7 separate regions of the Homo sapiens genome follow, and regions 2, 3, 4, 5, 6 and 7 are each linked to region 1. Evidence: fine-mapped expression QTL. Tissue or cell type: whole blood. Region 1 holds a variant in brackets; each other region holds the start of a gene. Each region is shown on its reference strand, or each on the opposite one.

Region 1 (4,076 bases):
CAAGATAGAAGGGAACTGAGGGTCACCCAGTTCTGTTTGGTAACAAATGTGTTCCACTTCTTCCCCTAGCCAGAGTCCCAGGACAGAGGGTTAGCTCATTATGTCTTTGGCTCCTCTTTTATCCCTAACCTCTCGGGTATAAAATGTAAGTGATTAATGTTCCACAAGACTTGGACTGAAAAACTTTAATCCAGTACATTCTGTTTGATCAAAACAGGGTCCAGGAAAGTTAAATGACTTGTCCATAGCTGCCACAGTCTGTGGGTAAACAGGGACCAAAACCCAAGGCCACTTGATCCCCCATGCGTGGCCTTCCTATAAAGCCACTTGCCCATGGTGTGGACATGATTGCCCTGTGGGTACGGGGCATGCTGGGGCCAATGACACGCTATCTTTGGGGAAGGGTGTAGCTTTGTGGTTAAGACCATCAACGTTCTGGCAGACTAAGTAAGTTCTGGCATGGCTATTTAGTAGCTGTGTGATCTTGAGCAAGTTACTTATCTTCTCTGAGCCTCCATGCCCTCATTTATACAACAGGGCAGTACCCTCTTCAGCAGGTTGTGAGGATTCAGTAAGGTAATATATGTCACATGCTTGTCACAGGTCTGGCATAAGGCAAATGGCACCTAACATTATTTTCTAGCTTTTCAGCACTCAGGTGTGAACTTCCCAAGTCATAATGGTTCTTTCTGTTCCAGCTGAAGTTAACTCAAACCTGTCTTTATTACTCCATTTGTTGAAAGAGAATCTGATATGGAACTTTTTGCTTGGATGATGTGCCACACATGTAGTCTACTGTTAGAAATTGTTTAAAAATCTGAGTTTCAGAGCTGTCTTTCCAACTGGTTGGTTGGTTCCTGGGTTTTGAAGAGATTCGTTCCTCCTCCAGACTTATCTCCTCGCTCTGTTTGGGACCATAATAAACCTAGCTACTGTTTATGAAATTATTACTATGTGGTAGCCCCTTAACCAGGTTTCTCTCTAATCTTCACCTCCACCCTTTGAAGTAGGTGCTATTTGGTCCTGATTGCAGATGAGGAAACTGAAGTTCTGAGAGACTGAGTAACTTGCTTGATGGTTGATATTTTGGTGGTTCTCCCTCGTGGAAGGTGGAAGAGCACACTGTGCTCTGTAGTTTTCTGGATGTGAGATTATGTCTAGGGTGACTCTAGCACTTGGGGTTGACACCTGACAAGGACTTGAGTGAGCATCCAACCCCCTGATTGATCAGCAGGGGAAGCTGGTGAGCAAAAACGTCACAGGACTGGACCCAAGTCAGCACTGCTTCTCATTCAGTGTTCTTTCAGTCATATCATATAGGCTCAAATCCTTGACCCTTGCATCATAGGCTCTGGCCTCAGGACTCCCTGGTTTGTGACTGGCCTGTGAATTAACGTTCCGCTTCAGAATTGGAACTTGAGGTTCTAGAAGCAAGGTGCTTGCATTTGAACTCCAGCTCTGCTGCTTACTAGCTGTGTGACTTTGGGCAAGTTGCTTGAACTCTCTGTGCCTCAGTTTCTCCTACTATAGAAGTACTCATTTCATAGGATTGTTGTAAGGATTACTTGAGATACTTCATTAAAGTCAAAGCACAGTGCCTGGCAGAGAGCAAACACCTCTTCGGCTCTCAGCATCATTTACTGAGCTCTCATCACTTGCCAGGCATCTTTTGGCAATGGGGATGTAGCCTTGTACAAGCGATTCATGATTCTTTTGGAGCGTACAATCTAGTAGGGGAAACAGATGCTAGAGAATAATGAAGATTATGATTTATTAAGTAATTCTAGTGCTATTTGTTATTTATGGGGCACTATTTAGAAGTTGCTGCAAGGTATCTTTGTTTTTAGTTCTAATTCTTATAAATGGACAACATTAATGTAAGTAAGTATTTTGGGTAAGAAGTTTGGCCAGGGTTGCACAGAACCCTCAGCTTTGAGAAGCCTGTGGTTTAGCATCTCATGCCAGCAACCATCTAGATGTGTATTTTTGTTTTGTTTTTTAGAGACAGAGTCTTGCTCTGTCACTCAGGCTGGAGTGTAGTGGTACAATCATAGCTCACTGTAACCTCCAACTCCTGGGCTCAAGCCATCCTCTTGCCTCAGCTTCTAAAGTAGTTAGGACTATAGGAATGCACCATCATGCCCTCCTAAATTTTTACATTTTGTGTACAGACAGGATCTCACTATGTTGGTCAGCCTGGTCTTGAGTTTCTGGCCTCAAGTGATCCTCTTGCCTCAGCTTCCCAAAGTACTGGGATTATAGACATCAGCCACCAAGCCCAGTCAGTCATCTGTGTTATATCCAGAACAGAATTAGGTATGGCCCTACCACTTAGATGCAAGCAGCCCACCCTTGAAGGGCAGAAGGGAAGCTGTGACTGGGCAGAATCCACAAGGCAGCAAGACTTGGTCCACTGAAGGAACAGATAGCTCTCATAGTCATAACAGGCCTGTAGGAAGAAGACAGTGTAGGAACCAAATGCTGTTGTAAAGAT[A/G]ACACAGGCACTATGTAACCGAGTACCTATTTTTAAGTGACAGTGGTATATTTTAGGCCAGTTCTATCCCATTTGTAGTCTGTCTCCATTTTCCCTCAGTAATTCTTTTCTCATAGTTGATCTTTCCTCTGTTTCAACCTCTTGTTTGCTTTGCCATTTGATATTAAAAGAATCTATATGCATATGCATTTCTTGACAAATGAGTACATTGAGCTTAATTTTCTGATGAGCCTTCATAAAATATTACCATGCTGAACCAACCCAAAATGTGGGCTGCCTATACCAAACATGCTAATTTTAGACAGGGTGCTTTCATCAGTACATAAGATATGAATTTTTATTTGAAAGCTTTCCTGAAATTAAATAGCATAAAATCAAGATAATACTCCATATACACTTCAGTCTTTGCTGTTTAATAGAATCACAGAAGCATACACATTTATGTTTAAATCACCTTGTTATATGGTTCAAGAATCTATGTCTCAGAGAGATCACTTGACTTGCCCAAGACCACAGACTTAATGGTAGGGCCAGATTGTATACCATGTCTTCTTTTTTTTTTTTTTTTAATTTTTTTAGAGGTGGGGTCTCGCTCTGTTGCCCAAGCTGGAATGCAGTGGCACGATCATAGCTCACTGCAGCCTCAAACTCTTAGGCTCAAGCAATCACCCTGCCTCAGCCTCCTGAGTAGCTGTCACCATAGGCATATGCCACTGTGCCTGGCTAATTGTTATAATAATAATTGTTATTATTATTGTAGAGATGAGGTCTTACTTTGTGGCCCAGGCTAGTCTCAGACTCCTGGGCTCTAGTGATCCTCCCACCTTGGCCTCCCAAAGTGTTGGGATTATAGGTGTAAGCCACTGCACCTGGCCCATGTCTTCTAATTTAGGTCAGTTCACTCTTCACTCTGCTGCTTCTTTTATATATGTGCAACAGTCATATCCTTTTTTGAAATTATAAGATTAAATCAAAGAATTAATGTCTTTGGAAGCAAGGAGTGTTGGAAAAGTTCTCCAAATTCCACCTTTTTTCCTTAATTCATTTAAAAAAAAAGGGAGAAGGATGATTTATTTACCGGAAGGGTTAATAATAGCATGACGTGCTAACTGTATGCTTAGAAATCTGACATACATATTATCTTATTGGATTATTCATGTGTTTTTAACTCATTAAAACCTTGAAACTCTCATATCCCCATTTTATAGATGCTTAAACTGATGTTTGTCATCATTAAGTAAACTGTCCAAAGTCATATAGTTGGCAAGTGAAAACTTGGTATTTGAACCCAGGCTTCTCATTCTAAAGCAGAGGTGTCCAATCTTTTGGCTTCCGTGGGCCACAGTGGAAGAAGAATTGTCTTGGGCCACACATAAAATACACTAACACTAACAATAGCTGATGAGCTTAAAAAAAATCGCAAAAAAAAGTCTCATAACGTTTTACGAAAGTTTACAAATTTATGTTGGGCCACATTCAAAGCCATCCTGGGATGCATGCAGCCTGTGGGCCATGGGTTGGAAAAGCTTGTTCTAGAGCTTGTATTCTATGTTCTTCCAGAAAGAAGGACAGAGTGTTGAGT
Region 2 (4,076 bases), not on the chromosome of region 1:
AACCCTCCACACATCACTCCTTCTTCTTCCTGCCCTCCTGCACAGTCTGATAATGGTGCTCTCTCTTGCTCAGCCCTTTAGCCCTGCAGACCTAGGACAGGGCATGACTTGGGAAGGCTCCTGTGCACAGGGTGCACTGGAGGAGGTGCCCCAGGCCCTGGGCCATGGAGATAATTGTGTATCTGCTTCTCTTTTACCTTTTGGGTGGGTAGCCTCTCCTTTTTTAAGGGACACTGACTTCAACCATGTCTACTAATCCCTCAGTATGGCTCCCTGGGCACTCAAGAGCAACAGTTCCAGGCAGGGACCCCCACATCCTACTCTAATTACTACTGCAGACACAGAGGAGACCAATTCCATTCCTTCCCTGGCCTCTTGGATTCTTTGTTTACTCACCTCTTTCCAGTGACCACGTCTCCCACTTCCCCTTCCCCAGCAATACTCCCCTGTCATCCTCACCTCTCCCCTCCCCCCAGCTCATTTCCCAGAACCCACCATCCATTTATCTTCTCTACTTTATACAACACTGCTGGGAGGAAGGGCTCTTCCTCAGTGGAGCCCAGGAACCTCCATGAGGAGCCCATTTCTCCCTTCACAACCAAAAAATTGCTTCCTGTAGAATAACAAGCAGAGGGAAAAGGCTGGAAGGAGATATGTTATCGGGGTGTTCTCCAGGGGGTGGGACTGTAGGTGACTGACATGTTTGTTTTTCATACTTTTCTCTAGGTTTTACGTTTTCTATTATGAGCAGATTACTTTTATAATCAGTAAATATTTAGAGGAGAGGTTAAACCACAGCTCTTCGAAGAAGACAGGGCTATGTTTGAATCCTGCCTCCACAGTTAGGAGTCATGCTTCCTTGGAAAAATCTAACTTTCTAAACCTCAGTTGGCACATCTGTGAAATAATACCTACTTCACAGGGTTGTTGCTATGATTAAATATAAAGTGCTGGCTACAGGGCAGGCATTCACAAACTGGCAACTATTACTTAAACTAATAAGAGTTAAAATCGCAACCACCACCACTTGCCCCTAAGTGTTCTCTGCCTCTTGGTACCCAGACATGGGAAAGTCTCACCTATTATAGAACTGGGCTATCCTTCCCTTCCAAAGCCCACTTTTTTTTTCTTTACTATGCCATAAGGTGGCAAAGTCAGTAACCTCGTGTATCATTAGCTGGTTGACTGAATGACTGAAAATACAAGGACTTTGGAATAGTCTTTCTCCAAGTGCAGAGGCAAAAAATAAATAAGCAAACAAATAAATTTCATATACGTATGATCACTGTACTCTTCCAGTGAGGCAGGAGCCAGGGCCTATGCCAGGCGCTTTCATACCGAGTCACCTTTACAGCAAACCCCTCGGGCGCTGGGCACTTGCAGTACCCAGGTTTCCGCGTGGGCGCTGACAAATTGCAGACACTTCCTTTCCTCGCCAGCAGGGCTCTCTCGCGGTCACTTCACCCAGCCCCTTCCGAGCGAGAAGGCCTTGGGGGCCGGGACAACCCCTCCCCAGAACCACCCTGACTAGGCTCTTTGCAGCCAGCATCACTACCGAGCTAACCAATATGGACCAGCCTGCGCTGCACAGGGCGCTTAGGCGATCGTTGGAGGGTCATGAGGATCAGCCTGTCCGCCCACCGACGGCGGCGCAGTGGGATGGGGAACGGGGTGGGGGCCGAAAGACGGGAGGAAGGAGTCGCTGCAGTGTCTCCAGGCGATGGTTGCCAGCGTCTCACTGGGGAGGAAGTTCCTCCTGTCATCCAACCCGCAGTTCCCCTCTTGCAGAGCCCTGCCGAGCTCCCAGTCCAGCCTAGGCTGTCTAACGGATGGGCGCTCAGACGCCCCCGCGAGTTGAGGAGCATTTTTCCTAGGGCTTCCAAGTCGGGCGGGCGCCTTCCACCATCCACCACCCACGTCTCGGCAAGGACCCCTTTTCTTTCTGCTCCTAGGTCTTCCGCATCCACTTCCATCCCTCTCTCGCCCTCCAGGGCTTTCTCAGGCGCCTCTCGCAGCGGACCCCGCCAAGTGCCCCTCCCCCGGGCCCTCTAACTTACGGTGCAGCAGTCCATGCTGGTGTCGGGGGGTCCTCTGCGGGGACGAAGGCTGGCGCAGGGCGGGGGTGGGGTCTGTGTGGTGCCGGGTGGGGGCTCTGGGGCAGTCGGCCGCCAGCCGACCCGCGCCGAAACAGCAGCTCTGCTCTCGGGTCCGGTCTCCCGCGCTCGGCTCCGCTCGCGAATGTAACCTGAGCCCCGCGGCCGGGAAGCCAATCAGGAGCAGCCTCCGGCAGGGTGGGCGGGGAGAAGTGGAGGGAGGGCCACGCCCTCTCGCGGCTCTCTGCGCCGCGCTCCCGCTCCTGCCCCAGCCCCTCCGCCTACACGCTTGTATCCAAGCCTCCTACACACTCCATCCTCCCGGGCGCAATCCCCTGGCTTGCTAGGCGGCAGACTGCCAGGCAGATGTACGCCGGAGTAGGCAGAAGGAGGCCCCCGACACCCCGAGCACAAACACCCACATCTGGGCACAGCACCTACTCCCGCTCAGAGAAAACCACGCACCCCTCACCCATCCCTCCATACTTCCACAACCTAGCAGGAGTCCCAAATATGGCTCCCTTTCACTTCACTCCCCCTCAGTCCGCAAAGAAAGGCTCCCTAACGGGCGGTAAAAAGGTCTCATCATCACTCCTGCTACAGACGGAGAAACCTGTTGGTACAACCTGGCGATGGGCATGCGTCCACACAAAAGCTCACAAGCCCCACATGTCCACATATGATTTTCCCAGGCCTTCTTCCAGCATACAGACACTGCAGATACAACCTGCAAAAATAACTACGCAGCCCTTCAGTTGCAGGTAAATGCGGACACCCTGTTGCGGGCGCCCGCGCGCTCACGCACGCACACGGACAGTCACCCAACTCAAGCTGTCGGCATGACGTATCTATTATCGATCTGTCTACATGAGCTGCAACAAACAACATCATATATGCACAACACCTATTTTGTATGTATTTATATATGGGCACAGACTTGGAAGAAGTATCCTCCTCCCTTTCATACCAGACTCTGCCTAACCTTTTGATCTGCTGCCTCAGAATAAGACAAAAGCTGGCCATCCTCGCCCTTGCTCCTGAGAAGAAGAAAAATACCCTAAACCCAAGTGTAGAGAATTCGAAGTAATTGGCTCTTGGGTCCATGATGAGGCAGGATGTGGGCTTCGTGAGAGGCTGGGAAGGGGAGCTATGGAAAGAGCATCTGGGAGGGACAGACTGCCACTGTTGTGGTCGTCAGCCTCCCCCAACTCGGCAGGGTACAAAAGCTGGCAGTGTGGCTTGTTATGTGGGTAGGGTAGGCCTTCTCTGAGAAAACTAGAAAGTCTTCTCAGCTAAGGTCCCAGAGAAGGGAAGGAGGAAAGGATGGCTCCTGCTGGGAGCAAAGGTGGGAAATGCCCTGTGGCTCTGGTTGGGACAGCAGATCCTGAGACAGCTCTGCTGTGCATCCCCAGTCCCTGGCCATGACCAGGGACCACGTGGCGGTGACATGCTTCCTTTCCACCTAGATGTTTGGGCCCGAGGCTCTGCTTGCCAAAGGAAAAATGAGTGGGAGAGAAATGCCTGAGTCCATTCAGGGTGGGGATAAGGTTAGCCAGCTTGGGGTCCCAGGCTGAGCTGGATGCTGGCCGGGATTCCAGGGCTTGGGGTGTAGGGGTGTCTCTCCCAGCATGTTTGGGACCCACCCACTTTTGTAAAAAAAAATCTGTTCCCCAATCTGTCTCTGGCACATCTTTCATCTCCCCACCTCCTCCAAGTGGCCAGATGTCCTGGGAACTCAGGCCCTTGCCTAAATGACACGCACATCTGTGGCCTTCTGTTGTGCCAATTCCTGCTGGACTTCAACTCCAGAATCCAGAGAGGAGAGGAAAGGGGGAAATTGGGGGACAGAGTGGATACCAGGCCTAGACTCTGTGCTTTTCTCTTCCCAAATTAGAGCTGAGGAATTCGGGATTTGGTGAGTTTGCAGTCAAGTCTCCCAAGTTGCTAGGCAACATCCCTCTGCAGACTGCGCTGCCTCTGGGC
Region 3 (4,076 bases), not on the chromosome of region 1:
AGTCTTTCACAAGTTACAAGGGCTTTATATAATAGAAAAGCTTAAAATAAGGCAGAAAAACTCCTCATACCAGAGTTGTCTTCTTTTTCATTGGAGGGTACAATACCGAAGTTAAAATCATTAGCTACAGATTACAGCATACAGGCTAAATGTCTACATACAAAACAATCAATAAAACTTTTTGTTTCAGCTAAACTTAGAAATAAATCATTGTCCTATTTAGTGTCAGTAGGTTCTACAGTAATTAGTACATCAATCATTTGAGGAACTCGTAATAAAATACTTTACTCAGAGATAGAATGTCACCATCAAGTCACGAAACCTTTCCAGGGCGAGTTAATTTGGAAGTCTGCTTACTTCTAAAGTAAACTGTCAAATGTGGTCTGTAGGTTATCGCATTTAAAAACAGGACCTGAGAACTTGAGTAGACATAGTAGATAACTATTAAACAATAGGGAAAATTGGCTTGAAAACAAAAACATGATTTAAAAAATTACTATATTCATCTTTTTGATAGAGAGTAATTTTGAACATTTAGTATTTTAAGCATTTCTTCTAAAATTTAAGGATATGAAAAGTAAGAAAAGAATATGGAAAATTTAAATAATATTCTGTGAGACTTATACATAGTTGTAAAAGGAAGAAAACTTGTTGCCAGTGCCACTTACATCTGCCTCTTCTTTATTGACAATCTTCCAAATAAATTTAAATAGCATAGTTGCTTTGGGTCCTGTCGAGTTTGGCCTGGAATTGTAGGTGATTAGAAAGGATAGGGAAGCTTTCATGTGATACGTATTCATTGATTTATTAATTATTTAAGACCTACTTTATATTGAAGTATCCTACATGTTATAGGATACATGAGACATTCAAACAAACACAGGACATGCCACTCCCTACAAAAGTGCATGGTTCAATTGAGGAAGGAAGTCTTACAGATGGGACAGAGAACCAGAAAATAACATAAAGCCAACATGTAATGTGTAGGTCCACCTCTCTATCTTTGTAGGGATATAGCATTTCAGACCAAAACCTTTAATTTGGGTCTGAGAATTCAGGAACAAATATTTTCCTTGGTAAGGACATTTCTTGCACAATTTCTAATAGTGCAAAATTGGAAACACCGTGAAGGGCACCAACAAGGCAAGGTTGAGTAACTATTGTTCTTATCACAGGACGTCACATGGTCATTAAGAAGAATGGGGGAAAACTACATTAAGATGACCTGAAAAGATAAGGAACACATATTTTTTGAAGGATAAAAGTCAGCTGTATAGTGATCCATATACAATACTTCTATGTATATGTGTACCTCTATGTCTTAAACGTGTCTCATTGTATACATATACATGTGTGCATATAAGTGCAGACAGAATTGAAAACTAATGCAAAATTGTTACCAGTGTTTACCACTGAATAGTAGGAATGTGGAGAAATGATGAAGAGAAATTTGTGTTTTATTTCAAAGACATCTGCAGCATACGAATCTTTTGCAATAAATTATATAATTTTTCTGTTAAATTAAAAATAAAAAGAAAAATAAATATGCTGGGTCCTACTTTTTAGGTATTCTTAGGTGGTAGAAACAAGTAGCTTCTTTTGTAATATAAAGGAGGATGAGTTTCATTTGTAGTTTCTAGATGAAATTACAAAAGATAATATAGATTGAAGGCAGAAAGAATCCAATAAGCTAAAATCCAAAGACAACCTTTGACGGTAATTGGCTCTTATTTTACTTACATGCTCCAAACCAATCCCAATATTTATCAACATTCATGAAAAGAACATTTGCTTTCTTTGGCAAGCAAAGATAACTTTCTCTTTCAAGGGCCACATGTTTGTGCCTTCAGGTGCTCCTAAAGTTTCTATTAAGCCTAAAAACTGCAGTATAGAAAAGGCAGGGCGTATTGTTATAAATCATACAAAGAAAATGCATGTAGTATTTCAGTCTAGTTCTTACCTTCCTGAACGGAGTTCTTACACAGGTGTAAGGAAGATAAGTATTGAGAAAGGGAGAGTGGGAATGTGAAGTGATGCACATTAAGCAAGTTAGTAGGAATTTGACCTGTCTGGTCTTTCTCTGGGTTGGGCACAGCTTCAAATGCTTATGTGTGTATCACCACATACCCTCACTTCCTCCTTTCCTACCTCTTCCTTCTTACTGGCTTTGAGAAAGAGCATATAAATGACATCTTCAGGGCATGAGAAGCCACTTATCTGCAGACTTGTAGGCAGCAACTCACCCTCACTCAGAGGTCTTCTGGTTCTGGAAACAACTCTAGCTCAGCCTTCTCCACCATGAGCCTCAGACTTGATACCACCCCTTCCTGTAACAGTGCGAGACCACTTCATGCCTTGCAGGTGCTGCTGCTTCTGTCATTGCTGCTGACTGCTCTGGCTTCCTCCACCAAAGGACAAACTAAGAGAAACTTGGCGAAAGGCAAAGGTAGAGGCCCTGCTTCTCTGCACTTGTTGCTGCTTCTGCTACACCTGTCTCTGGGGTAAAGACTAGCTTGGTGCCTTTGGGGCTGGAGAGGGCCATTATACCAATAACTCCAATTGGAGGAGACACACAGGGGGGTCACTTCTCACTTCTTGTGTGCTGGGCAATCTTCTGGGCACTTTACTAAAGCGTTACAGATCATATTCACAATGGCTTTATGAGAGAGGTACAATTGCCCTCAATCTGCAAATAAGAGACCTGAGGAAAATATTCATGACCACCAATAGGTCACATTTTCTACCCTAGAGGAAAGTCTAGACAGTGACTTGTATGCTGAACTCCGCTGCATGTGTATAAAGACAACCTCTGGAATTCATCCCAAAAACATCCAAAGTTTGGAAGTGATCGGGAAAGGAACCCATTGCAACCAAGTCGAAGTGATGTAAGTTGCTGTTTCTGTGCTATTGCCTTATCAGAGAAACCCTCTACCTCCATCCACATATGCACTCGTTTCCTCCAGTCTCATGGATTAGTTCTGATATTCAGATCAGGACACCCACAGATAACCCTGTTCTCTTTTGCAGAGCCACACTGAAGGATGGGAGGAAAATCTGCCTGGACCCAGATGCTCCCAGAATCAAGAAAATTGTACAGAAAAAATTGGCAGGTGATGAATCTGCTGATTAATTTGTTCTGTTTCTGCCAAACTTCTTTAACTCCCAGGAAGGGTAGAATTTTGAAACCTTGATTTTCTAGAGTTCTCATTTATTCAGGATACCTATTCTTACTGTATTAAAATTTGGATATGTGTTTCATTCTGTCTCAAAAATCACATTTTATTCTGAGAAGGTTGGTTAAAAGATGGCAGAAAGAAGATGAAAATAAATAAGCCTGGTTTCAACCCTCTAATTCTTGCCTAAACATTGGACTGTACTTTGCATTTTTTTCTTTAAAAATTTCTATTCTAACACAACTTGGTTGATTTTTCCTGGTCTACTTTATGGTTATTAGACATACTCATGGGTATTATTAGATTTCATAATGGTCAATGATAATAGGAATTACATGGAGCCCAACAGAGAATATTTGCTCAATACATTTTTGTTAATATATTTAGGAACTTAATGGAGTCTCTCAGTGTCTTAGTCCTAGGATGTCTTATTTAAAATACTCCCTGAAAGTTTATTCTGATGTTTATTTTAGCCATCAAACACTAAAATAATAAATTGGTGAATATGAATCTTATAAACTGTGGTTAGCTGGTTTAAAGTGAATATATTTGCCACTAGTAGAACAAAAATAGATGATGAAAATGAATTAACATATCTACATAGTTATAATTCTATCATTAGAATGAGCCTTATAAATAAGTACAATATAGGACTTCAACCTTACTAGACTCCTAATTCTAAATTCTACTTTTTTCATCAACAGAACTTTCATTCATTTTTTAAACCCTAAAACTTATACCCACACTATTCTTACAAAAATATTCACATGAAATAAAAATTTGCTATTGACTTGTTGTCATCTATTATTAATTTTAACAGGATTGTTGGGGAAAAAAAGCTTTAATTTTCCTCTCTTTTTTGTATACTTGGTATTTCACAGTTTGAACAACAAAAGTTACTAA
Region 4 (4,076 bases), not on the chromosome of region 1:
GCCCAGCCACAGTGGGGAGGAGGAAGCACAAGGGGGTGGAAGTCAGGGCAGGAGGTGGACAGGAACAGCAAGCAGGAGGCATTAAAGGGCCACAGCAGCCCAGAAGCAGCCCTACCATGGGGGCTGGGGTTAAGGTTAGGGCAGACCCTTCAGAAATGCTGACGAATAAATGAATGAAGAAATACAGGCAAGAGGAGGGAACAACTTCAAGAAATAGCTTTGGCAGGAGTGAAGCGTGGGAACACAGGGCCACTCCAACAGTAAAGCCGGAGACAGCGTCACGGGGGGGTGTCTGACCACCTCCATCCATTCCACACAACTCTTCACAACCCACAGCTCTGCTACAGCTCTTCTCCTTGGTGACGCAACATCTTCGCCTCCTCTGTCCCTGCCACTGTCTGGTGGTCCAGCTTCAGAGTCTGCACAGCCCTTCCTCGGACAGTGCACGTCCCCTGGCCCATAGCCTTTGTGCAGAAGGCTGGCATTACCATCCCCACCTCGCCATCCTCAGCAGCCCCATGACCTGCCTTGGCCCAGCTGCTGGTTATGTCCCTCCTGGTCCACTGCCCCACCCCCTCCCTGACCTCGAGCCTGGGTCCCACCCCTCTGGGCCACCACCAGTCTTCCAAGGGCAAGCCCACCATCTCCACCCCTCAGTAGCCCCTTCAGAACAAAGTCCAAGCTCCTGGGCAAGGCCTGGCTGGCCCTTCACCGTCTGGGTCCTTCAGGCCCGTCTCTCTCCACCCTGCCCCATCTCAGTACTCCAGGGCTCAGTTCCCACGTGGCACAGAGTAGCTCTGACCACCTGGCCTGGGATACGTCATGCTCTGGGTCTGGAACACCTTCCCCTCTGTCTCCACGCCTGCTAAGAGGTCACCTACTCCTGGGAAGCCCTCCTTTTCTGACACTGCCTCCCTAAGGATGGGTGATCCAGGCTCCAGGCTTCCCTAGTTAATGCTGCCCAGGTCCTCCTTGTCCTTGGATTCAGGGTGCCAGGAGCACCCTGAGAAGCACCCAAAGGGCCAGCCACCCTCTCACCAACTCCTGCATCTCCCACACCACACGCCGCCGGCGGTAGCTAATACAAGTTTCCTTAAAGAGCTCATGAACTTGAAATCAATTCTCTACTTGGGTTACTGCCCCGGAGGCAGGCCAGGGGTCCCTCCCTGAGGCAGTCTGATGGAGGAGTAGGTGTGACCCCTGACCTTGCAAGGAAGAGCCTCTCCTGGATTCTCCACCCCTGCCCTGCCCTGCCCTCCCCACATGCCCCACCACCACGGGGTCCCCGCGGCTCTCACAGGGGCGGGCACCACCTCTGGGGTCTCCAGCTTTCTTACTTTACTCGAAGCGTGTTCACGACCACAGATTCCGCCACCCTCTCAACACGCCTGTCTGGTGGGTGTCAGGCAGTGTTTGTCCCCTTCATGCGTGAGGAGACGAAGGCTCAGAGCGTGAAGCCCGCTCCAAGGTCAGAGAGGGAGTCGCAGCAGAGGCGGGGTCGAGGCTGTGACTCGCGGTGGCCCCCGGTTCCCTCCCACCCCACCCCACGAACCGGCGTCTGGCCGCCCTGAAATGAATGACTCCGCCGCGTCCCGGCGCCGCGCTCCCAGCGCTCCCCTCCGGGACAGCGGCCAAGGTGACTCTGACCGCCTCCGGGTCGCGGGTCGGGCCTGGGCAGGGGTCCCTGGGCCAGGAGAGGGAGGCCGCTCCGCGCTTACCCTCCAAGGCCGCCTTCCAGCTGGTGCTGCCCTCGTAGCCCGACCCGGATCGCCGCAGCAGCCCCTCGGGGCCGCGGGCCTCAGCCTCTGCGGGCGAACGCGGCCTGGGGGCGGCGGGGGCGGGCGCGGGGCGCGCGGCGAGGGGCGGCGGCGGCCGGGCCCGCGAGGGGGGCTCCCGGGCCGGCTCCATGCGGGGCGCTCCGCCGCGCCGCGCCCGCGCTCCTGCACCGGGGTGCGGGGCCCAGCCCGACGCGCACTCGGCGCTCCGCGCGCCCTGCGGGCCCCCCAGGCCGGCCTCGGGTGGGCTAGGACCGCGGCGCTGGCAGGCCGGGGCTGAGCCCGGCTCCCCGCGCTGGAGCCTCTGCGCCGGGTGCCGCCGCGGTGCGCTCAGCGCCTGCCCCGCCGAGCCGCAGCCTCCACGCACAGCCGGGCTGGGGAGGAGCGCGAGGCGGCGCGCGGGAGCCGGGAGCCGTGGACCCGGGCGGGGCGGGGCAGGGGCGGAGAGGGAGGAGGCGCGGAGGAGCGGGGACAGCCGGCTCCCCGACCCCGCCACCTGGGCTGGAGGCTGGATGCTGTCGAGCTGGGAGCGCAGTCTTGGAGCCGGGAGACCTGGTTCTAACTCAGCTCCATCTCCCCAGCCGCCTGCTCACCATCTGTGAAAATGGGAATAAAGTTCGCGGGGACAGTGCAGGGAGGCTCAGGGAAGATGAGCGCCTTTCTTCCCGGCTGCCCTGGAGCCACAGCAGAGGGTGGTAGGGGCTGTGACTTGACCCCCAAACTCTTGATAAAGGAGAGAAACGTCCGAACGATGAGCACAGAGACAGTAGAGTCTAAAGGAGCAAGCGAAGTGACGTTGCAGATTCAATTAACATTTATTGAGCACCTACTAAGCGCCAGGGACTTTCACATATTATTAGCTGACAATGCCCCCAGGTGAGGCTGAGAAGTGGAATTTTGAGGTCAAGGACATTTCCGAAGGCGGCGCCAGGCAGGTGCGTGCTTGGCGGGTGTCTGACTCCCAGGCCAGGGCTCCCTCCGGAGCCTTCACTGGCCCCTTGCCTCAGCTGACCTCGCGTCGCCTGAAGCCCCACGCCTCCAGCCCTGATCCTCTTCCCCCTCCACCATTCTCAGCCCCAACCTCTGGTTCCTGTCTCCATCTTCAGTTCCTCATCCCCAGCTCCTCCTGCTCCCTCCCCCAAATCCAATAGGCCACTGACTCTTGTGAATTCTCCCTTTTAAAATATTTTTATTTTTATTTTTTGAGACAGGGTCTCGTTCTGTAGCCCAGGCTGGAGTGCAGTGTCACTACAGCCTCGGCCTCCCAGGCTCAAGCGATCCTCCCACCTGGGTCTCCCAAAGTTCTAGGATTGCAGGCGTGAGCTGCCGTGCCCGGCCCCTTTTTTTTTTTTTTTTTTTTTTTGAGACGGAGTCTCGCTCTGTCGCCCAGGCTGGAGTGCAGTGGCGGGATCTCGGCTCACTGCAAGCTCCGCCTCCCGGGTTCACGCCATTCTCCTGCCTCAGCCTCCCAAGTAGCTGGGACTACAGGCGCCCGCCACTACGCCCGGCTAATTTTTTTGTATTTTTAGTAGAGACGGGGTTTCACCGTTTTAGCCGGGATGGTCTCGATCTCCTGACCTCGTGATCCGCCCGCCTCGGCCTCCCAAAGTGCTGGGATTACAGGCGTGAGCCACCGCGCCCGGCCGCCCGGCCCCTTTTAAACTCTTAGTCTGCGCATTGCACTCCATCCCTCTAGCCACTGGCCAAGTACAAGCCAATGCCTTCTCTTGCCCGACCACAGCAGCAGCCTTCTAAGGGGTCTCCCATCCTCCACTCTTGCTCCCTCCTATCCAGCCCCTCCCCCTCCACACCCGCAGCATCTACCTAAAGTGCAAACTCACCACTCCTTCAGGGGTCCCTTTACCTGTGGATTAAGGCCATCTTTTTACAAGGCCTCAAGGTCCCTCATGGTCAAAGTCCTGCTCCTACCTAAGGCATCCTCTCCTCCCACCCCTTCTCTGCCAGCCCTAGACACACCTAACTATTCTGACTCTTTCCTCTGGGCCTTTGAACACTGTCTTCCTTCTGCCTGGAACACATCTCCTCCTTGGTCCTTCTAACCCCTCCTTGTAGCCCCCATGCACCCTAGTTTGCCTACCAAATTTCTGCTAATGCTTCTGATTGCACAGTCTCTAGGATACTGCATTCATTCAGAGTAGGTTCAACAAGACTACAACAGAAAACCCCAGTAAGAGTTTAACTAGAAAGAAGGTTTTTGTTTTTTGTTTTTTGGTTTTTTGTGTTTTTTTTACCTGAAAGAAGTCTAGAGGTGATCAGCCCAGGGCTGGATTGAGAGCTCCA
Region 5 (4,000 bases), not on the chromosome of region 1:
AGACCACCAGGAAGATGATGATGGCACTGACACAGCGCAGGAAGTCCTGGGGGCCAGGGGTGCAGGGTTAACAGGACCTCAGAAGGCAGGGGGCGTTACCCTGAAGTTTTCCAGGCTAGCCAGCAGCCCGACCCTGAGGGATTCTGAACCCCTCCATAGGATACCCCTCACACAATATGAAGCACATTCAAGAGACAGAGCGCTCACACTGCTACCCAGGGAGTGGAAGCAGATGAACCAGAGCAACCAGGACCAGAAGCCAGGCGCTGGGGCTGGAACCCAGGGGACAGCGGCTGGAGTATGCCAGCCCGGGGGGGTCAAGCCAGGCCAGGGCTGGGGCTGGACCTTTGCTGAGTGGGAGAGTAGATCTAGCGGATGTGGTCCTCCTGATTGCCCGTGGCCCTGCAGCTGTGAAATCAGTGTGAGTCAAAGCACACCTTTGAGTGCAGGGCATAGCATGGGACAAAGCCCAGCTGTGGTGTGGAAATGGAAAGAAGCTCGGGGAGGAAAGGAAAATGCATCATTTAGAGGAGAGGGAAGGGCCCCAAACTGGGCTAGGGGTCAGGGTTCCTCACCAGACAGGGCCAGTTAATTCGGTCGAAGCGCTGGTAGTACTGGGTGGCATAGAGGAAGAGGAAGGCAAGTGTGATGAAGAACTCCAGTAGCGCCGCGGCCATGTAGGCAGAGATGGAGGCCGTGAAGCAGATGAAGATGATGAGGGTCAGGGCCTGCAGGACCGAGCATGTGGAACATGCCAAGAAGGGGACACAGGCAGGGGCCAGGGCTTTGCCTTCCCCTCCTTGGAAGCTCCCCTAGGCTGGCACCTACTACCTGTCCTTGGAGGGGAGGAAGGACTCTGGCACATCTCCCTATCCCCTGGTGTCAGGAGCCACCGTTGCAGGGCATTTGCCGGTCAAGGGCAGTCTCCGGCCTCCCACTCTGCTCACCCAGCAACCCCAGCAGTCTGGCCAAGCCATATGGCTCCCAGGAGCACTATCCCACAGTAATTCATAGGTACAGTGTGAATGCCAGCCCCTGGAGTTGTGCCCACAGAGACCCGACTCCACAGGGACCAAGAGGAGCCCCCTGCCTCATAATGCTTTCCCCACCCCCAGATGCCTGAAAGCCCCCTGACAAGGACCAGAGCCTTTGATTCCATGCCAAGAGAGAAGGCAGATGCTGCCCAGTGGTTTCTGGGAGCCCCTTTAGCTCTGATGACCTAGGGTGGCATACGTGCAGAGGCCTTAACTCTACACTGTGGTCTTGCTAAGTAACCAGGGGAAGATCCTTTCCTGAGAAGAGATGTTTCTGGGCAGCAGACCACAGATAAAGTGCAGTTGCAGGAAGTCTGCCCTTTTTGATAGTTAGACTTCTTGGACGTGCTGAGAAGTGGCCATGTTAGAGGCTGTCATTGCCCCTGTCCCATCCCTATGTCTCAAGCTTCCTCAATGTCCCAAAAAGTCACCCTGTCTAACTGCAGTCCTTCCTGCTGCAACTGAAACCTGCTGTAAATGTCTCCGGGTGGAGAGGCAGCAAGAAGGCAGAGTAGGAGACGAAGAAGGGGCAGCTGCGGGCAGGAGAGGTGTCCAGAGGGCTTGGGGAAGGAGGCTACTGAAGGGTGAGCTGGGGGCTGGCATAAGGCTGGCCAGGAGCCGGGGGTCAGGGAGATGGAGGCACCAGGTTGGGAGGCAGCTGTTACCAGCTCGGTTTCCAGCAGGATGCCCTTGTGGGAGGTGAGGAAGGCCTTGTCCACCGCGAAGCCCTGGAGCTCTGCAACTACCCCCTCCTCAGGGTGCCGGTCCCGGCGATCTCGAGCACTGAGCATCTTCGTAGGGCCCACCAACACAGCCCCCTACTGCCAAAAGCCCAGCAAGAGAAACAGAAATCTGGCAGGATGGGGAAACAGACAGGAGCAAGAAGGCACTTCGAGAAACCTGAAAGTGAAGCAGGAGGCTTGCCCACAGGGCCCCGGGAGAGAAGGCAGGCGCTGGGGGCCTTGCCCAGATGGGCCCTCACCCAGCTGCCCAGAGTGCCTCTGCTGCTGCCTGCACCAGCCCCCTAGAGACCCATGGGGAGGGGCAGAGAGGAAGGAGGCTCTAATCCCTCCCCTTGCTTAGAGCCCAACCCAGCCTGGAATAGAGAAGGAAGGGGAGAGGAGGAGGTCCGAAAAGAAACTGGGAGGAGCTGGGATGTGAGTAGAGGAACAGGGGCAGGACTGGGAGCCCCCAGGGACCTAAGCCTGAAGACATTTGTGTCCCCCTTCTCTAACCTTAACCCTCTTGTTTGGCCGGTCCTTTCTCCCATTTCCTTTTAGGGAGGGTGTGAGCTGGAGCCCAGCCCAGGCAGCACCCCCAGGACCAAGCTGCAGCAGCCAGGACTGGAGGACAAAGGCGGATTGTTGGGGGACAAGGGGGCGCTCTGTGCCTGCTGCAATGCCTCAATGGGCCTCTGTCTCTCCAGCATGCCGGGAGCGCGGCCTAGCCCCCACCCTGGTGTTTGGGATGGGCCAGGGAGACAGAGATGGGAGAGGACGGGAGGGTGCAGCGGAAACTCTGGAGGGCGGAGAGAGCTGGCAGGGTGGACAGAGGTGAGGGCCAATGGTGGAAAGGAGAAGGGACAGGCTGGGAGACCGCGAGATGTTCAGGCACCACGGATGCCAAATACAGATTAGGCCATTTTTAAATAAAGATATTTATTTGGATAAATCTCTATACATTCAATAACAGCTTCCTCCTCAGAATCATCCATGTCAAAAGACTAGTAACTACACTAGAATGCACCCAAAGTAGATGCTCACTGAGTGATGAGTAAACAAACAAATAAAACCAGGGGCTCTTTCTTCTCCAGCAAGGGGGAAATATCTAGAAAGTGCCTGTGCTGGGCCAGGGTAGCAGGGGATGGGAAAAGAGGAAGAGACAGGAGTGGTGGCCTCCAGAAATGGGCAGAACTTTGAAAACCTTTCCTGAGAGAAAATGACAGGACACCAGCTTCCGGCGGCCCTAAGCAGCAGCTGCTCTTTTCAAAATGTGCAGAAGTGCAGGCTTTCCCCAAAGCCCCCCATCCTGTCCCGGGATCCTGCTGCTCCAGACAGCACTTCACAGGGGCCAAGCATCTGGGCATCCTGGCCCTTCATGGCAAGTGGTTGTACACCTGGCTCCAGGTTTCCCAAAAAGGGACCAGCCTCCAGCAGGTCCGGCTAGCCCATCACACGGGGCCGCACACACACACAAGCTAAGGAAACACGGTACAGCCTGCGCTCCAGGCAGTAGCCCTTGTGGGTGCCCTTCTCGCCATGGCATGGCCGCCGGTAGAAGACAGTCTGGTTGTGGTAGAGCAGCTCCGAGTTGCCCCGGGGGTCCATGTGGGAGCCTGTCTGTAGGCTGACGCAGTGCGGGCACAGGCAACGGGCGTGGTACAGGTCCTGGGGGAGCCGGTTCAAGTCTCTGTCCAACCTGTGGGGGCGGCACTTGTCAGGCCTTGGAAAGATGGGCCGGAAACAGAGAGGGTGGGGTGGCATGGGAGTGCCAGAAGAAGGAAATGGTCCGTCTGGGGCCTTGGCCTCTTGTCTCAGTTCTGAACCCACTTGCTGTGTAACTTTGAACAAGTCACCTCCCTCCTTTATTAAATTTTCCCCACTGTAAATGAGGGTAGCAGGTGACAGAGTGCTTTCCAACTGGTCCTGGGACCGTGAGGGAGGCAGGGGAGGGTGAGCAGGCTCCTGCCTTAGCCTCCATTGACCAGCACTGCTTCTATCTGACTCAGCATGAGGTTTCTTATTGTAATGATTACACTTTAGGTGTTTTTGTTTGTTTTTTGATTTTTTGTTTTTGTTTTTTTGAGACGGAGTACCCAAGCTGGAGTGCAGTGGCACGATCTTGGCTCAACTGCAACCTCTACCTCCTGGGTTCGAGCGATTCTCCTGATGCCCGCCACCATACCCAGCTAATTTTCATATTTTTAGTAGAGATGGGGTTTCATGATGTTGGCCATGGTTGGCCAG
Region 6 (4,076 bases), not on the chromosome of region 1:
GTGGATCCTCTCCTGCCCTCATTGCCAGTTGGACATAGAGAAGGGTTTATCAGTCTGCCTTTTATTCAAAGTCTTAGATCCCCAGGCTCCTGGCTGACTTGCACTGTTGGAACTAAGCAAAAGAGATTCCAAGAAGATCCCACAAGGATCTCGTGTTAGTCCATTTTGTGCTGCTAGTACAGAATACCTAAGGGGGGTAATTTACATTGAAGAGAAATTTATTGTATCATGGTTCTAGAGTCTGCAAATTCCAAGATGAGATGTTGGCATCTGGCAAAGGCCTTCCCAATATGTCATCCCATGGCAGAAGGGCAATGAGGGTTAGAAGGAGCAAGAGGTCAAATTTGCTGTCTCAGGCCCTTTTTATAGTGGCATTAATCCATTCATGAGGATGGAGCCCTTGGAACCTAAACATGCCCCAACATTGTTGCATTGAGGATTGAATTTCCAACACGTGAACTTTGGGGGACACATTCAAACCGTAGCAGATCCTCTCCATTCATCCTACCTCACCTGGCACGTAATTCACTTGCAGGCTAGGTGGGGAGACAAGAGTATCCACAGCCAAGAAGCCCACAGCTTCAGGGACCTGTGAACAGAAGTGGACCAGATAGGGGATGGCAAGGAGGAGGTCAGCACAAACTGTCTGCAGGGTGAGGTAGCTTCATTCTCTGCAGTGGGGACATGAGGTAGGGATCGGGGTTCAGGCACAGGGTCTGACTGTTTTATACCAAAGCAGGACAGATGGAAGTCAGAGGTGGACAAAGACTTTTCCTGTCACCTGTGACTCAGTCACAGAAGTGCCCAAATTGTCTTCTGGTCTGAGGACAGCAGAAGCTCAGGATACCTTTCTAGCAGGTAGATACAGGGAATGGTGTGGGATGAGGCAGAGGTTTGCTTCAGGTTCTCATCAAATTCCCCAGATCTGAAGCCAGCCCCTCTCAGGCCTGAACAGAAGCACTTCACCTGTTTATTTCTTGAAAAGCCATTCTATGTTGCTGCTTCCCACTTTTAGTTCTCAGAGGTGGCTTTCCTACTGTCCAGAAGACATAAACTTCTGTTTTCCCTGGAGTCACCTTAGCTTAAACTCCTATAATCTTGTTGAATCATCCCTGTGTTTGGCTAAACCAGGCTCCTCATACCCACGTTCCAGGGTCACACAGGTAACTTGGCTTGCTGCTTCTGGGGGCTCTGAATCCCACAATGCCGATCCACCACCTCTTCCCTGCTGCCACTAGTCTCCTGGGGTCTAGCCTCAACAGCTTCCACCAAGGACACACTGCATTGCTTAAGAGTGTATTTAAGGTGCGGCATTTGTGATGCTAGGGAGGAGCCTTCCTGACTTAATCACGTAGGGGGAGTGGGGAAAGAAGTGGGTATTTGGAAGGAGGGTGAGGTGGGCTGGGAATGCCAAGAAATGGTAGTACTGTGTGGTGAATCAAAGTGGGTCTTGGAATCTTCCTAGCTTTTCTTTTCTTTTCTTTTCTTTTTTTTTCTTTCTGACTTTTTATCTTATGTTGTCACTCACCATGTTTTGTTTTCCTCATCTGCAAAATGGATTGTTGTAAGCTTGAACAGGAATCATGCATAAAGTACTGAGCACAGTGCCTGGTACCTTGAAATCACTCAATGGAAGTTTCTTATTATTTGCCCTACACCCAAGGAGTAATTGGGGCCCTGAAGGAAGACACCCCAATTTGCCGTCCTCCCAGCCGCCAAGCCTGATAGTGCACTAGGGAGGCTGATGGGAAAATACCGTGCAGAAGGCTGAGGAGTGGGGATTCTGGGGCGGGACTCTTTGAAGTCCTAGGTGACCTCTCCGCCCAGGCACCCGCCCTCCCCGGGCCTGGGCTGCAGAGCTGCGGGCGGGGGCGGTGGCCCTGCGCTGCACCCGGCCTGCCTGCGCGTAGGCGGGCGGGCGGGGCTGCGCGTCCGGGCTCCCGGGGCTGGTAATATAGCGGCTCGCCGAGGCGCTGGTGCACGGGGGCAGCGCGCAGCAGGCCGGCGGGCAGGCGGGCGGGCTGGCTGGCAGGCAGGACTGGGATCGAGGCCCAGAAAACGGAGCAGCGGGCACCAGGGAGGCCTGGAACGGGGCGAGCGCCATGAGCAACAAATGCGACGTGGTCGTGGTGGGGGGCGGCATCTCAGGTTAGTCGCGGCTGTGCGCCCTCCTTCCTCTTCACGCGCTCGGACAGGTGGCTGCCTGGGGGAGACGCGGGGGGCGGCCGTGGGGCAGGGGCTGACCCTGGAGTCCCCAGACTGTCCACGCACGGGCAGGGCTCTAGTGGGTCCAGAGCGCCGTGCACTGAACCCTCCTTTGGGGGCAATTTTGGGTGCGTTCCCGGACGCAGAGGCCAGAGGCTGGAAGCCTGTTGCAGCTCTGGGGCCAGACTTTGAACTTCTCCCCCAGAAGGCTGCTAGGCCTTCGCTTGCTGGAATTTTCGAAGCCAGGGAAAAGGGGTGGGGAGGTGGCACAAAGGTCAGTCATTTGCTCCAACTTGACCTGGACACTCCGCACCCTCGCTTAGAGCAAGCATGCACCACATCGTATTGTTGTCCTGGCGTCAGGAAAACGACCTTGAACAGAAGAGGTTGGAGCCTGGCCAATCGATTGCCAAAGACTTTCCAGGCCCTCCTGATTCTTTGAGGTTCTGTGATTGTCACGGATCTAACTTGAGGCTGCAGTGTCTTTTTGGCAAATGCCTGTTTTCCTCTTATGCCTCTCGCACCCCCACTCCACCCCACCCCACTCCTAGCGCAGGGTGGCCAAGCTGCAGCTTTGCTCTCTGGCCTAGCCCATATTTGGCAAGGATGGGGACAGACACTACCCCCTCAGCCACACGGGGCTGTGTACATACCAAGGGCACCGAAAAATAGAAGCCAGAAGAAGGGATGGGGGTAGTGGTGGAACTTACCCTCTGTGGAGGATCAGGCAGATCCTATGGGATAGGGTCAATGGGAATCAATGATGCTCTCAGCACAGCCTGTTTAATGGCCCCCTGGGCATGCTTTGGCCCACCTCCTAACGCTGCCTAGTACTTGAGCAGTAATTAGGACACCTCCAGACCCGTGGATGCATTGTCTAAGACTTGCCTTAAGGAGTTCTCAAGTGGCCTTTGGGAAGTAGAGGTTGGCCTTGCTCCCTGCCAGGAGGGCAGGACAGAGTTGTTCTGACTCTCCTGTGGCTGGAGAAAAAACCAAGGCATTGGATGTTTGGTGCTGACCATGGTCCAGTCCTCCTGCCTCTGCTCCAGCCTTTCTCCCCTTTGGGTGGGATCTCAGGCTACCACATCTGTCTAGCAGGCTCTGGTGAGCTCGCCCATGCCAGGCCCTGTGCCTGGTGTTGCAGGTACATAGATGCGTAATCACAACATGCTGAGGTTGGCCAAGGCTGTGTATAAATTCAGTTTTCTTTCAGTATTTTTGACATCTTCTCTCCTAGAGGAAGTTGGACTTAAAAGCATACCTACTTAGGTGTTTTAGAAAATATTACTAAGTGCCTCTTGATGCTGCCTTGCATAGCACCCCATCTTACAGAAGCTGAAGTTTCTCTTTTCAGGCCCCCGAAGTCATTTTCTCACTAAAGTATGCCCAATGGATTCAGATTTTTCTATTTTCCCTTCATGATTTGTCCCTTTCTGATTCATACTCCACACCTTCAGGTTCAATCACATTACTCATGTTAGACTCATCTGGAAAAGGTAGATAAGGGTTTAACTATTTTTGCAAGCAGTGGTGAAACCTCTGCATTCATCCTCCCGAACTCTGATCAAAACAAGGTACTGATGAGTAGATCTGACTTTTCTCAAGAACATTCCACGGAATAGGCATTGTTCTAAGAACCAAGAAAGCAGCCTTCCAAGGCCCAGTCTTACTCAATTGCTTCATCTGCTACATGGGGATAACACCAGTTAGTCACTGCTGGATTACAGGGCAAGTGAAACAATGTGAGTAAAATAGCTTTGCAGAGTCTGAAATATGGCACAAGCCCCTCAAGAGTTTTACCCATTTATTCAGACAATAGGAATTGAGGGAGGCTGTGTAGGGGATTCAAAAATGGATCATGTTGTTCTTGC
Region 7 (4,076 bases), not on the chromosome of region 1:
TTTCACATCTTAAACCTCACCTGCCACGCCTTCACCTGTCCTCAAAAGATTCTACATTTGCTTTTTTTTTTTTAAACCTCATCTTTCTGGATTTACTATCATAATCTGTATCTATGGACTTATTCTGGGTCTTTTCTGCATTTACACTCACCTGTCTCAAAGTCATAGATTTGATGTTCCATCCCTACTGCCCTCACTCATCTCTGGATTCATCTCTCTTTTACTCATTACCCATGGTTAAAAATTCACTATTTGGGCCGGGCGTGGTGGCTCAAGCCTGTAATCCCAGCACTTTGAGAGGCCAAGGAGGGCGGATCACGAGGTCAGGAGATCGAGACCATCCTGGCTAATACGGTGAAACTCCATCTCTACTAAAAAAAATATAAAAAATTAGCCGGGTGTGGTGGGGGGTGCCTGTAGTCCCAGCTACTCGGGAGGCTGAGGCAGGAGAATGGCGTGAACCCAGGAGGTGGAGGTTGCAGTGAGCCAAGATCGCACCACTGCACTCCAGCCTGGGCAACAAAGCAAGACTCCATCTCAAAAAAAAAAAAAAAAAAAATTCACTATTTGCCATCCTCATTCCTCCTCGTCTCCTGCGGGCCAGTGTGCTTCTTGTCTTTCACGGGTGTCTTCCGTGTTATTCCAACCAAACCAGCTCTCCAGCATCCTATGTTTTCTTCCCTTAGCTGTCTGCTCTCACGGGTCACCCACCCCCTCCTGTTCCATGTGGTCCCCTCACCTGACTTCTGAGTCACCTTTACATCTCCTTCCTACTTTCACTTTGCTTCTCTGTTTTCCTGGATCGCTGCAACTCCCACTTTCTGTCTTTGCCTTCTTGGAAGATGGGATCTCCAGATCACTTACTCCCTGCCTCCAGCCTCACACGCAGCCTCTCTTAGCCTGTGTAAAACTTTGGGAATTCATAACTCCTTCCCGTTTTCTGTCCAGCACCCTGGGATCCCTACATTTCACCTGCCCTGGGCCCATACATCCTCTAAGTCTGCTCCGACCGTCCTTAACTCTGCCCTCCTAGCCCCGCAGCAGTTCCCGAGACCTTGTGCCTCCTTCCCCGACGCCGCCTGCTCACCGGTGCCCTCGGGCAGGCTCAGGATGTCCTCGCCCTGCACCCAGCGGTAGCACGGGAAGGCCACCTCCGCGCAGGCTCCAGGGCCCTGCACCGTGATGCGGTCGCAGAACCACGCGTCGTCCACCAGCCAGTGGTGCTTGCGCAGCCTCACGAACTGCAGGAGCCCCAAGTCCTCTGCAACGTCATGATCAAACTCCTCCTCCTGTGCAGGCCGGACCCAGGCCAGACTTAGTAGGAGGGACCCGACTGAGGCCGTTTCGAGGACAGAGCCGCGCTCCTGTGCAACCTCAGTTTCTCAGGGCCTCCAAAGACAGCATCGCCTCGTTCCCGCCCCCGCACAACCTGCTCTTTGGGTCTCAGACGCCCGGAGTCGGGTGGAGGACGAGGGCCCGCAGCGCCTGGAGCTGATGCTGGAGCAGCATCGCCCACGTGGGTCCCATTAACTGAGCTCTCCCCGCGCCGGTTCTTGGAGGAGCTTCACGTCTGACCTCTGGCCTCATACTTACATTGGCTCTGGGTCACTGGGAGAAGGAGCTGGGGGCTGCCGGGACCAGGGGCGGGAAAGGGAGATGGGGTTGAGCCCAGCCCGGGATCCCAGCTGCGGACCCTGTCCCTAATCTTGCCCACCTCGTCCCAGCTTCGTGGAAGTCCCAGTCCGCGAGGTCGCGCTGTCACCTCGCCCCCAGCCTCCCGCCCTCCCGCCGCGAGCCCAGCTCGGCCCGGGCCTGGGCCCGGGGTCCCCGCTGCCCTAGCTCCCCTCGCTCCCCGCGCTGACCTCGCCCCGCGCGGGCCGCAGCTGCAGCTCCAGCTCCGCCTCCCCGCGCGTCCCGACCAGCCAAAGCTGCACGCGGTTGTACGACCCGGAGAAGAGCCAGGCCCCGGTGGCCACGCGGATGCGGTAGCGGCCCATGGCGCCCCCCAGCAGCTTAGGCGAGGGGAGCCGGGTCCTGTGCGATTCCCGGGACCGCCCAGGGCTGCCGGCGCCTCGGGGCCACTTCCAACCTTTAAAGGACCGGTCTGCGGCCCCGCCCTCCTCGCAAGTTTTAGGCGCTCCCAAGTCCCCGCCCCAGACTAGCCCAAACCTGCGAGCAGAGCGGTAGAGCCGGCTGTGGGGACTGGCTGTGCCTCCTGGTCGGAGCGTAGCTGCAGGATGATAAAGGGGCCCGAGCCAGGGTGAGGCCAACGGGGTGGGTGCGGCGGGACCTTCCTGGACCTCCCGGGAAGGCGGGATCGAGGTGGGCCTGAGCCCCCGGGTTGGAGCGAACATAGATGAGAACACTTCCCGAGGTCTCCAGGTCTTCTGGGGAGCCAGGAGGAAGTAGGGGATGAGTCCATCTTCCAAACGGAGGGGAAGGTCTCCGCTTTTCTGGGCTGGGACCCGGGGAAGGCAGTGGGCCGGCTTCTGGAAGGTCGGCCTGGGAGGCCGTGCTGGGGTCTGGGGATGTCCCGCGGCTAGACCCGGCGCGGCCCATGTGTCCTCCAGTACCTGAGCTCTGCCGCCCTTGAACGCTGTGCTTCCGTCAACGACCAGGGGTTCCCCAGGGTACCTAGAACCTGGAAATGTAGCAGCTCAACACCCGCTCCCCACCCCGTTTCAAATATCTGGGCGCTGGGGTCCCAATGTACACCAAATATCATGGGCCAGACCTTTGAGAGAGGCCTGAGGCAGGGCAGTGAAAAACTCATTTTGTCCAACCTCCGAAGCGGGTACAGACAATGTTAGGGACCCAGGAACACCAGTCGGGGTGTTAGGGTGCGGGATGGAATTGCTTAGGGACCTGGCCTACGTGGCCAGTTCCCAAGAACTTTGTCTTTTCCAGGTGAGTGCAGCCCCTTCCGCTCCAGTAGGTTCCAGATTAATTTTTTATCCCCAAGCTCTTTCCTGCTCCTTCATGGGTCTCAGGTCTCCTGGAAATCCAGGAACAGCAATTAGCCCACTGCTATTTAGGGCCTTTGTAAACATTGAAGGATGATTCGGAGCTTAGGCTTTCTCTCCCGTGTCAGGAATCAGTCAGATGAAGCCTGCTGCACGCGTCCCTGTCTAGATCTTGATTCAAGTGATTATATGCATTTGGATCTCCGTGGATGCATCTGGTGGCCTGGGCTAGGCCAGTGTAAGTTAAATCTGCTTTCTTGAGCCAGTCCTCAGAAATGACTTGGTGGCCTAGTTGTTGGTAGAGGTAAGTGAGTGGGAGTTTTAGCCCCGCCTTCCAGCCTCCAGATCAGACTCTATCTCAAAAATAAATAAATAAATAAATAAAAATAAAAAAATAAAGTGTCTGTCCCTTACTGGATTCAATTCCCTTTCTTATCTTCTAGGTCCACTCTGGCCTACATCCTCTGCTCAGGACTGCAGGTCGGCCATTTGCTGGTCCCCAGTTCTTCCAGTTTTCTGGGGTCACCCCATTCTGTAATATCCAAATAAAATGGCTCAAATTCCCATCCTGCCTAATAGTAGGATCTGGCCTTTCCACACACATTTTCGTGGGTTACTTTTGCCTAGAAAAGAGTTTGTCTCATACCTACTTCCAAAAGCACTGTTTCTTTGCTGTTTTGTGACTTATTTTCTGCCCACTCTAGTGTACTCTACGGCCACGTGCAGAGAGAGGGAATGAATAATTGAAAAACCGGATTCAAGCTACTGCGCATGCTAAATGAGTGAATATGGCTAAACAGTGAGAACAGTGCTTGGCGTGTAGTCCCTCTATGTATTAGCTGCTATGATTGTATTATTTACAACTGAATGTTAGCGTTGCTCCTCTACCGTTCCTCTCCGCATGCTATTTCTCCATGTCCCTCTCTAGGCCTAGCCTCTCACTAGAGCTCTTATCACTCTAGACCCTTCCCCCTCCTGCTTTTGTTTCCCTTTTAAGCACATGCGCTATGTTGGGAGAATATAATTAGAAGCAAAATTTTCTCCCAACCCAGAAAAAACCTCTCCACGAAAGTAGTGAAGAAAGAAAACAGTTTTATTATTGAATAAGCATTA

The links. PIP is the estimated chance that this variant, and not a neighbour inherited with it, causes the effect.
Region 2: it holds the start of NRGN, and the variant in region 1 is fine-mapped to the expression of NRGN in whole blood (TOPMed, PIP above 0.99).
Region 3: PPBP starts here. The variant in region 1 is fine-mapped to the expression of PPBP in whole blood (TOPMed, PIP above 0.99).
Region 4: CLEC2L starts here. The variant in region 1 is fine-mapped to the expression of CLEC2L in whole blood (TOPMed, PIP above 0.99).
Region 5: CMTM5 starts here. The variant in region 1 is fine-mapped to the expression of CMTM5 in whole blood (TOPMed, PIP above 0.99).
Region 6: it holds the start of MAOB, and the variant in region 1 is fine-mapped to the expression of MAOB in whole blood (TOPMed, PIP above 0.99).
Region 7: ALOX12 starts here. The variant in region 1 is fine-mapped to the expression of ALOX12 in whole blood (TOPMed, PIP above 0.99).

The regions. Positions count from the first base shown.
Region 1 is chr3:56,814,140-56,818,215 of GRCh38, reverse strand. It overlaps a transcript of ARHGEF3 not described here. Among named protein-coding and RNA genes, the nearest start is that of ARHGEF3, 14 kb to the right of the region's middle. The variant A/G (reference allele first, on the strand shown) is at 2,495.
Region 2 is chr11:124,738,081-124,742,156 of GRCh38, reverse strand. NRGN (neurogranin) reads right to left here and starts at 2,215. Exons shown (of 4, transcript NM_006176.3): 1 at 2,058-2,215. The coding sequence starts at 2,072. RefSeq lists silencers at 2,077-2,396, 2,457-2,516.
Region 3 is chr4:73,986,326-73,990,401 of GRCh38, reverse strand. PPBP (pro-platelet basic protein) reads left to right here and starts at 2,212. Exons shown (of 3, transcript NM_002704.3): 1 at 2,212-2,446; 2 at 2,750-2,885; 3 at 3,028-3,963. The coding sequence starts at 2,299. The coding sequence ends at 3,130.
Region 4 is chr7:139,521,760-139,525,835 of GRCh38, reverse strand. CLEC2L (C-type lectin domain family 2 member L) reads right to left here and starts at 2,151. Exons shown (of 5, transcript NM_001080511.4): 1 at 1,719-2,151. The coding sequence starts at 1,908.
Region 5 is chr14:23,375,077-23,379,076 of GRCh38, reverse strand. CMTM5 (CKLF like MARVEL transmembrane domain containing 5) reads right to left here and starts at 2,031. Exons shown (of 6, transcript NM_001288746.2): 1 at 1,700-2,031; 2 at 576-728; 3 at 208-408; 4 at 1-46. The coding sequence starts at 1,825. IL25 (interleukin 25) reads right to left here. Exons shown (of 3, transcript NM_172314.2): 3 at 2,674-3,452. The coding sequence ends at 3,197.
Region 6 is chrX:43,880,326-43,884,401 of GRCh38, reverse strand. It overlaps MAOB (monoamine oxidase B), which reads left to right and starts at 1,952. Exons shown (of 15, transcript NM_000898.5): 1 at 1,952-2,148. The coding sequence starts at 2,103.
Region 7 is chr17:6,994,039-6,998,114 of GRCh38, reverse strand. It overlaps ALOX12 (arachidonate 12-lipoxygenase, 12S type), which reads right to left and starts at 2,066. Exons shown (of 14, transcript NM_000697.3): 1 at 1,863-2,066; 2 at 1,088-1,289. The coding sequence starts at 1,997. The region is part of intron 2 of ALOX12-AS1 (ALOX12 antisense RNA 1); the gene reads left to right.